Linked DNA regions of Homo sapiens: all the other regions are reported to be linked to region 1. Evidence: microRNA targets listed by miRTarBase, many of them from high-throughput screens and not tested one by one. Region 1 holds a microRNA gene; each other region holds the end of a gene's coding sequence.
The links. Region 1 holds the annotated microRNA hsa-miR-29a-3p (UAGCACCAUCUGAAAUCGGUUA, at 1,294-1,315, shown strand). A microRNA usually pairs through its seed, bases 2 to 8, with sites in the 3' UTR of a target mRNA and lowers its output. Matches are read on the target gene's strand: a 7mer-m8 pairs with bases 2 to 8, a 7mer-A1 pairs with bases 2 to 7 and ends in A, and an 8mer does both.

Region 2: the mRNA of EMP1 is a reported target of hsa-miR-29a-3p. Seed matches in the 3' UTR shown: 7mer-A1 at 1,539-1,545.
Region 3: miRTarBase lists ASXL2 as a target of hsa-miR-29a-3p. Seed matches in the 3' UTR shown: 7mer-m8 at 2,428-2,434.

Annotation. Positions count from the first base shown.
Region 1 is chr7:130,874,945-130,878,062 of GRCh38, reverse strand. MIR29A (microRNA 29a) reads left to right here and starts at 1,253; the gene lies at 1,253-1,316. It overlaps MIR29B1 (microRNA 29b-1), which reads left to right and starts at 524; the gene lies at 524-604. It also overlaps a transcript of LINC-PINT not described here. RefSeq lists a silencer at 2,504-2,703 and an enhancer at 2,499-2,793.
Region 2 is chr12:13,214,318-13,217,435 of GRCh38, forward strand. EMP1 (epithelial membrane protein 1) reads left to right here. Exons shown (of 5, transcript NM_001423.3): 5 at 217-3,118. The coding sequence ends at 374. Among named protein-coding and RNA genes, the nearest start is that of EMP1, 19 kb to the left of the region's middle.
Region 3 is chr2:25,739,313-25,742,430 of GRCh38, reverse strand. ASXL2 (ASXL transcriptional regulator 2) reads left to right here. Exons shown (of 13, transcript NM_018263.6): 13 at 1-3,118. The coding sequence ends at 402. Among named protein-coding and RNA genes, the nearest start is that of DTNB, 67 kb to the right of the region's middle.

The DNA of each region.
Region 1 (3,118 bases):
TTCTTCCCTAGACCCCAAAATCTCAGTAATCCTTTGGATCCAAGTTATCTCCAAGTGAAAATAATAGGTTTAGGAAAGCGTTTTTCTTCAACTTCTATGGAGCACTTGCTTGCTTTGTCCTATTTGCATGTCCGACGGACGGTTCTCCAGCACCACTGCTAGTCGTCCTCCGCCTGCCTGGGTACTTGATCACAGGATGCCTCTGACTTCTCCTGCCTTTACCCAAGCAAAGGATTTTCCTTGTCTTCCCACCCAAGAGTGACGGGGCTGACATGTGCCCTTGCCTCTAAATGATGAAGCTGAACCTTTGTCTGGGCAACTTAACTTAAGAATAAGGGAGTCCCAGGCATGCTCTCCCATCAATAACAAATTCAGTGACATCAGTTTATGAATATATGAAATTTGCCAAAGCTCTGTTTAGACCACTGAGTAACTCACAGCTAGGTTTCAACTTTTCCTTTCTAGGTTGTCTTGGGTTTATTGTAAGAGAGCATTATGAAGAAAAAAATAGATCATAAAGCTTCTTCAGGAAGCTGGTTTCATATGGTGGTTTAGATTTAAATAGTGATTGTCTAGCACCATTTGAAATCAGTGTTCTTGGGGGAGACCAGCTGCGCTGCACTACCAACAGCAAAAGAAGTGAATGGGACAGCTCTGAAGTATTTGAAAGCAACAGCAGGATGGCTGTGAGAACCTGCCTCACATGTAGCTGACCCCTTCCTCACCCCTGCCAACAGTGGTGGCATATATCACAAATGGCAGTCAGGTCTCTGCACTGGCGGATCCAACTGTGATCGAAAGTTTTCCAAAAATAAGTTGTGTCTGTATTGAACATGAACAGACTTTCTTCTTGTCATTATTCTCTAACAATACTGCATAACAATTATTTGCATACATTTGCATTGCATTAAGTATTCTAAGTAATCTAGAGACGATTTAAAGTATACGGGAGGATGTGTGTAGGTTGTATGCAAATACTACACCATTTTCTATCAGAGACTTGAGCATCTGTGGATTTTGGTATCCAAGGGGCTTTCTGGAACCAATCCCTCAAGGATACCAAGGGATGAATGTAATTGTACAGGATATCGCATTGTTGGAATTTTATACTTCTTTGTGGAATAAACCTATAGCACTTAATAGATAGTACAGACTCATTCCATTGTGCCTGGGTTAAAGAGCCCAATGTATGCTGGATTTAGTAAGATTTGGGCCCTCCCAACCCTCACGACCTTCTGTGACCCCTTAGAGGATGACTGATTTCTTTTGGTGTTCAGAGTCAATATAATTTTCTAGCACCATCTGAAATCGGTTATAATGATTGGGGAAGAGCACCATGATGCTGACTGCTGAGAGGAAATGTATTGGTGACCGTTGGGGCCATGGACAAGAACTAAGAAAACAAATGCAAAGCAATAATGCAAAGGTGATTTTTCTTCTTCCAGTTTCTAAGTTGAATTTCACTGACCTGAATTGCATGTGGTATAATACTAACAAATGGTTCACTATTAGCATATCATGAATGGTTATACTTTATAGAAATTCCATAGACTTGGTGGGGGTTTTGTTTTGGTGACGGATACCTAGAAACACTCCTGGGGAAAATCGATGACTGGCTTAGATGATGGGAAAGGAGCAGCGAGGGAGTCAATTCTGTTGTTGATGAGAAGCTGCACCAGCTATCTCTGAACTCTCCTCTCTTAGCTGGCTGAGGAGTTCCCTCCATGGTTAAACAGGTCATTTTCTTACATAAGGAAAAATGGTCCAGAGAAACTGGGTTTCTATGGCTGAGACAGAACTGTGCTAATATGTGTCAGTTCAGTTTAGAAGGCAAAGCAACAAAAGCAGGTGCTACTTGAACTAGGATCCTAGAGTATACCTTTGATATGGTTTGGATGTTTGTCCCCTCCAATCTCATGTTGAAGTGTGATCCCCAGTATTGGGGGTGGGGCCTGGTGGGGGTGGTTGAGTGATGGGGCGGATCCCTTGTGAATGGCTTGGTGATGTCCTCACTTAACGAGTTCCTGCTCAGTTAGAGGGAGCCGGTTGTTTAAAAAAGCTGGCACCTCCTTCCTCTCTCTTGCTCTTTCTTTCTTGCTCCCTCTCTCGCCATGTGACATGTCTGCTCCCTCTCCGCCTTCCACCATGTATAAAACATCCTGAGGCCTCATCAGGAGCCGAGCAGGTACCAGTGCCATGCTTGTACGGCTGCAAAACTGTAAGCCAAATAAACCTCTTTACTATATAAATTACCCAGTCTCGGGTATGTCTTTATAGCAGCGCAAAACGGACTAACACAACCTCACTAGAAGTGAAGTCATTAGACCAAAAACAATACTGAGTTTTTAGGTCCACTAAGAGGCAAAAATAAAAGGCTCTTTATAGCAGCATGATTTATAATCCTTTGGGTATAAGCACATGTATGCTAGAACTTAAAGTATAATAATAAAATATAAAAATAATAAAATAAAATAAAAGGCTCAAGAATGAGCCATCTCGGCCGCTCCTCCTCCAGGGGCCCCTGTGTGCAGCTCCCAACACAGGTACTGCACAGACCGGCCACCTGCTGTCCCCATGTGGCGTCCTGGAGAACTGCAGGGGCACCTGGTGGAATTTGGGCCTTGTCCTTCTGTTTTCTTTCTGGCCTGGAAAAGCCACTGGCCTCACAATCAAGAGTTAATATTCTATCTACCCTGCTTAAGCTTTCCCGCCCTCTCACACTGCCTCCCTCCTTTTCCCTCCTGCCTGTCACTTGTCTGGAAAAGGCCTTTTCTCCTCGGGGCTAACACATGCAATTTGTAGCCAAAACATTCTGTCTACCACACAAATCCAACGAGAATCAGGATCATTCCACCACATCTTTTTCTATCCCATGGTTATTATTTTCCCAAAACTCTTGTCTTTTGCTTTCTTACCTATTCGCTGTTTTCCCTAAGTAATCTTATTTACTCCCCTGGTTCCAAATACATCCCTATGTGTTGATTTCCCTCAAACCAGAGGTCTGGCCTGGGATATTTTTTGAGACATCTTGCTTTTTATATTTTTAGTAGCTCCTAAGTATAATAGTTCAGCCTGCTCTTCTAAACTTGTCTCAATTTAATCCATTTATGCTTGAGGT
Region 2 (3,118 bases), not on the chromosome of region 1:
CCAGTGCAGACATGAGAGCCCAGACACCTCTAATTTATCAACATACCGTCGAGCTTGGCCCAGGGGACATCCATCAGAACTCCTGTTTAGGGACAAACAAGCAGAATTCATTTTCCTATTGCTAATGAGGGAAATAGGATCTTCTTAAAATTAGTAAAACTTTTTCTCGACTTTAATGTAAGAAAACACACCGACAAATCTCCTTTTCCCCTGCAGGGCTGTGCATTCTTGTGGGGGTGTCCATCTACACTAGTCATTATGCGAATCGTGATGGAACGCAGTATCACCACGGCTATTCCTACATCCTGGGCTGGATCTGCTTCTGCTTCAGCTTCATCATCGGCGTTCTCTATCTGGTCCTGAGAAAGAAATAAGGCCGGACGAGTTCATGGGGATCTGGGGGGTGGGGAGGAGGAAGCCGTTGAATCTGGGAGGGAAGTGGAGGTTGCTGTACAGGAAAAACCGAGATAGGGGAGGGGGGAGGGGGAAGCAAAGGGGGGAGGTCAAATCCCAAACCATTACTGAGGGGATTCTCTACTGCCAAGCCCCTGCCCTGGGGAGAAAGTAGTTGGCTAGTACTTTGATGCTCCCTTGATGGGGTCCAGAGAGCCTCCCTGCAGCCACCAGACTTGGCCTCCAGCTGTTCTTAGTGACACACACTGTCTGGGGCCCCATCAGCTGCCACAACACCAGCCCCACTTCTGGGTCATGCACTGAGGTCCACAGACCTACTGCACTGAGTTAAAATAGCGGTACAAGTTCTGGCAAGAGCAGATACTGTCTTTGTGCTGAATACGCTAAGCCTGGAAGCCATCCTGCCCTTCTGACCCAAAGCAAAACATCACATTCCAGTCTGAAGTGCCTACTGGGGGGCTTTGGCCTGTGAGCCATTGTCCCTCTTTGGAACAGATATTTAGCTCTGTGGAATTCAGTGACAAAATGGGAGGAGGAAAGAGAGTTTGTAAGGTCATGCTGGTGGGTTAGCTAAACCAAGAAGGAGACCTTTTCACAATGGAAAACCTGGGGGATGGTCAGAGCCCAGTCGAGACCTCACACACGGCTGTCCCTCATGGAGACCTCATGCCATGGTCTTTGCTAGGCCTCTTGCTGAAAGCCAAGGCAGCTCTTCTGGAGTTTCTCTAAAGTCACTAGTGAACAATTCGGTGGTAAAAGTACCACACAAACTATGGGATCCAAGGGGCAGTCTTGCAACAGTGCCATGTTAGGGTTATGTTTTTAGGATTCCCCTCAATGCAGTCAGTGTTTCTTTTAAGTATACAACAGGAGAGAGATGGACATGGCTCATTGTAGCACAATCCTATTACTCTTCCTCTAACATTTTTGAGGAAGTTTTGTCTAATTATCAATATTGAGGATCAGGGCTCCTAGGCTCAGTGGTAGCTCTGGCTTAGACACCACCTGGAGTGATCACCTCTTGGGGACCCTGCCTATCCCACTTCACAGGTGAGGCATGGCAATTCTGGAAGCTGATTAAAACACACATAAACCAAAACCAAACAACAGGCCCTTGGGTGAAAGGTGCTATATAATTGTGAAGTATTAAGCCTACCGTATTTCAGCCATGATAAGAACAGAGTGCCTGCATTCCCAGGAAAATACGAAAATCCCATGAGATAAATAAAAATATAGGTGATGGGCAGATCTTTTCTTTAAAATAAAAAAGCAAAAACTCTTGTGGTACCTAGTCAGATGGTAGACGAGCTGTCTGCTGCCGCAGGAGCACCTCTATACAGGACTTAGAAGTAGTATGTTATTCCTGGTTAAGCAGGCATTGCTTTGCCCTGGAGCAGCTATTTTAAGCCATCTCAGATTCTGTCTAAAGGGGTTTTTTGGGAAGACGTTTTCTTTATCGCCCTGAGAAGATCTACCCCAGGGAGAATCTGAGACATCTTGCCTACTTTTCTTTATTAGCTTTCTCCTCATCCATTTCTTTTATACCTTTCCTTTTTGGGGAGTTGTTATGCCATGATTTTTGGTATTTATGTAAAAGGATTATTACTAATTCTATTTCTCTATGTTTATTCTAGTTAAGGAAATGTTGAGGGCAAGCCACCAAATTACCTAGGCTGAGGTTAGAGAGATTGGCCAGCAAAAACTGTGGGAAGATGAACTTTGTCATTATGATTTCATTATCACATGATTATAGAAGGCTGTCTTAGTGCAAAAAACATACTTACATTTCAGACATATCCAAAGGGAATACTCACATTTTGTTAAGAAGTTGAACTATGACTGGAGTAAACCATGTATTCCCTTATCTTTTACTTTTTTTCTGTGACATTTATGTCTCATGTAATTTGCATTACTCTGGTGGATTGTTCTAGTACTGTATTGGGCTTCTTCGTTAATAGATTATTTCATATACTATAATTGTAAATATTTTGATACAAATGTTTATAACTCTAGGGATATAAAAACAGATTCTGATTCCCTTCATTGTGTGAATGTTTTTTTCTAAAAAAAATGTGGAGAAATATGGATAATTATGACATTTATCCCTCATTAAGCTGCCTATCAGTTTGATTTGGACAACTTGACATTTATTTGAGACATTAAGCTACTTTCTGGTAATATATTAGGCATTTCTGCAATAGCTCTTTCAGGTAACTGAATATTATTAAGCATAGTTTTATCTTGCTTTGATTAAACCTCTTAGGCAAAAAATGGAACTTCATAAGCTAATACATTAGAAAGGGGTTATGATTATAAATCAGAAATGCTTGTGACATTAAGAAATGAGGCACTTGTGAAATTTCTTTGAAATAGCCAGCTCCTCTAATGTGTCTTCAAAATATAAAGTGATTCACAAAGGCATGCATCACACCTATTTGTAGCAGCCCATTCATTACATAAACCAGGGCATACCTGTGTGGGCTCTGTGAGTGAAGGGAGGCTTCACTACTTTCTGTGAGCAGTAAGGACTGGTATCTTTCTGTGAGCAATAAGGACTGGATAAAGACTGCATATCCTTGTGTCGTGTCAGCACCAATACAATAAGGAGGGTTTTAATGTGAAGCAGGCAATCTTCCAGCCCCTTCTGGTCTTGGATGAAATAGTTGCACAGAGTATTGCACCAAAAATACACAATGGAGGCTGA
Region 3 (3,118 bases), not on the chromosome of region 1:
CACCAGCCCCTACTCCTTCCACCCCTGCAAACCCCGAAGTTGTATGGAAGCCCCACCCAGATAGGGCCAAGCTATAGAGGCATGATCAATGTCTCCACCTCATCTGACATGGACCATAACTCTGCTGTACCAGGTAGCCAGGTATCTAGCAATGTAGGTGATGTCATGTCATTTTCAGTGACTGTCACTACCATCCCTGCTAGCCAAGCTATGAATCCCAGCAGCCATGGCCAGACCATTCCTGTTCAGGCGTTCTCCGAAGAGAACAGCATAGAGGGCACGCCTTCGAAATGTTACTGCCGCTTGAAAGCCATGATCATGTGCAAAGGCTGTGGCGCTTTCTGCCATGATGATTGCATCGGCCCCTCCAAACTGTGCGTCTCCTGCCTTGTCGTTCGGTAATGAGACTAGAAAGAGATACACTGTAAAGGAGGGGGAAGGGAAGGGTTGACCAGTTGGGTTTTTTGCGTCCTTTTGGAATCACAGAAATAAACAAGTAGGTTTCAGTTGTCTTCAGAGACAAATGTTACTTAATCAGGAATACAAAGTACAGATTTTTTACATTTTAGAGGAAGAGCACCTTGTATAGTAAGTCTAAGTCAAGCAAGACTTTGTGAATTTGTGACAAGTTTGCACTTACAAAATCATGTAAATATGTCACATTTTGTTTAACATTATTTTTCCAAGTGTTTAGGTAATAATGTATTACTTTGAATTCAGATTAATGTTCTACTACTTGTGACTGAGAAAAGTTTAATGCCGGCATGGTAAAAGGAAGCTGTCTCCCTTCTGACATTTCCTAGGAAGCTAGGAAAAGGAAAGTGAAGGAATGGTCTAAAGAAATGACCATTCACACTGATTTTGTCTGGACAGTCTGGCCGCAGGTTATTCATAGATTATTCAGCCTTTGCAGGACTTGGATTCAGGGTTTTACTCAGTCCCTTTACCTTAGGTGGAATCTTCTTAAATTGAAATTTTTGGTAAGGAATTCATTTCACAGGTAGTGTTTCAGACTCTGAAAGCCCTGACTTGGTTCTTGGCTTCTACTGTACTAGTTACTAGTTACTGGTACTGTTGCCAAGCAATCTGCTTGGAATTTGTGGATCCCTGCTGTTCCCTAATCCCACCCCCTGCCCTGAGACAGTGAATGTAGTCCGTGAAGGGAGTGCCTCTCTGGGACCCCCTGTGTTGTTACAGGCTGTGCAGTGCAACAATTCCAGCAAAAATACCCTATCCCCGCACTTAGTCATTCGTGGTAACTAACAATTTTGAAATACTCATATAAAATGAACAGGAAAGTGTTAGTGATTGGGTGATTTGAGCTACATCTTGTTGAGCAAGGGGAGTGAAACCACAGAAACTGTTAAATTGAACGTAAATAACTTTGGAAAACAGTTTTGACACTAGAACAAGGTCGCTTCTCTTTTCCTCTTCTCTCCCAACCTGTTAACCTAGTGCTAGATAGTCAGCTGCTGTTGCAGGTAGAAAAGCTCACCAATGCCACATTTGTTCATTCTGTTCAACCTGTTTTGACCTCCCAGGCATCTGAACAGGATGACATCATCTTATTATATCTTACTTTACACATACGTGTATGTACACACACACACACAATACAAGACATTTTTCCTGTTTTAGAAAATATAGCCCTTGTTTGGATTACTGCTGTCTGAGCACTAGAAATTTCTAATGGAAAGAGGCCTCTGAATGGCTAAGGGAACATCTGGAAAGGAAGGAAAATGAGCCCTAAAGGTTTTTTGGTTGCTTGTTTTTGTTTCTTTTTCTTTCTTGTTTCCTTTTTTGTTTTTAAATCCTTCTCTAGTGACTGAAGAAATTGTGAGTACATAATATTTAGGTCATGGTTAAGGAACATTAAAATAAACCTGCAGTTTAACAGAATTTTGTATTAAATGGGGGAGTGTCAATTTGCATCATTTGCATATTGATTTCAAGTCTCCTAATTTGGAATGGGTAAAGTACAAATGTTAATGCAACATAGTACAGTTGTATTTGTCCTTCATATTCAGGATGTGATATTTACAAAATGCAGAACAGTTTAAACTTGTTAAGTCACATTCCAGATTAGGAGAAAATGGGCAATAATCATCTCTGTTTTGCCCCCATTCTACTACCCACCACTGCCCACCCCACCCCCACATCACACACTCTTCGATGCTTTCCCACAGCCCCTGCTCCGCTCCTCTCCGTAAGAAACTCACTTCACTGTTTTTCACTTTTCACTTCTGGCTTTTTTGTGGCCCAAGGCCAATATAGGATTAATATCTGTGTTCCAGCTTCAGCCAGAACGATATGTCTGTCCATCTTTCTCCTTTCTTCCAGCACACACAGCTAAGAGATAAGAAGGCTGCAAGGATTGGGGATAAGGAGTATATTTTCAAGCCAAGAACCAGTAGAAAACAGAAATAATGGTGCTCCCAAATATTCAGTACCTTGGGCAATCCAGGAAGGGTTTAAAGAGACCTGTTGCTGCATAGAACTCTCCCTGCCCTACCCCTTAACTCCACCTTAGTGCCAGGGCCGAGGGCTGGTCTGCATGCTGGAAGAGGTTGAGAGTTTTGGAATTGATTCCATGCTAAATGTCAGTTACCAGTTTGGATTGATGAAAGTGATTTTTCTGCTTTACCTTTTTCCTGTCAGAAAGGTTTTCCTCTGTGCTACCCTTAACTTAGGGATGAACAGACTATAACTAGGAAAGGAGGAAAGGTATCAGGGATTTTTAAGTCCGTTTAGAGAGCAAACCATATTGTGCCTCTTCATCTTGACCCAGGCTCTTATAGATAGGTCCTAAACATTGCTGTTCACTAGATTATCTTAACAAATAATACTCAGCTAAATATTTGCATTTAGGAATACTCCTAAAACAGATATTGCCAACTAGATACACTGCCTCAATCTTGACCAGACAAGAGAACAGTTAAGTTCTCTCAGTTGGGTAGTAACTTGAATACCAGTCTATTTATCAGTTGGTTTCAACACAGAGGTTTCAAGTGGAAAGCCATTCATCTTAAAAGCTGAACAGAAAAATTAAAAAAAAAAAAAACACATTACAATCTGGCCTTTTAGAAAATGAAGCAGTAGAAACAAAACCTTTATTAGT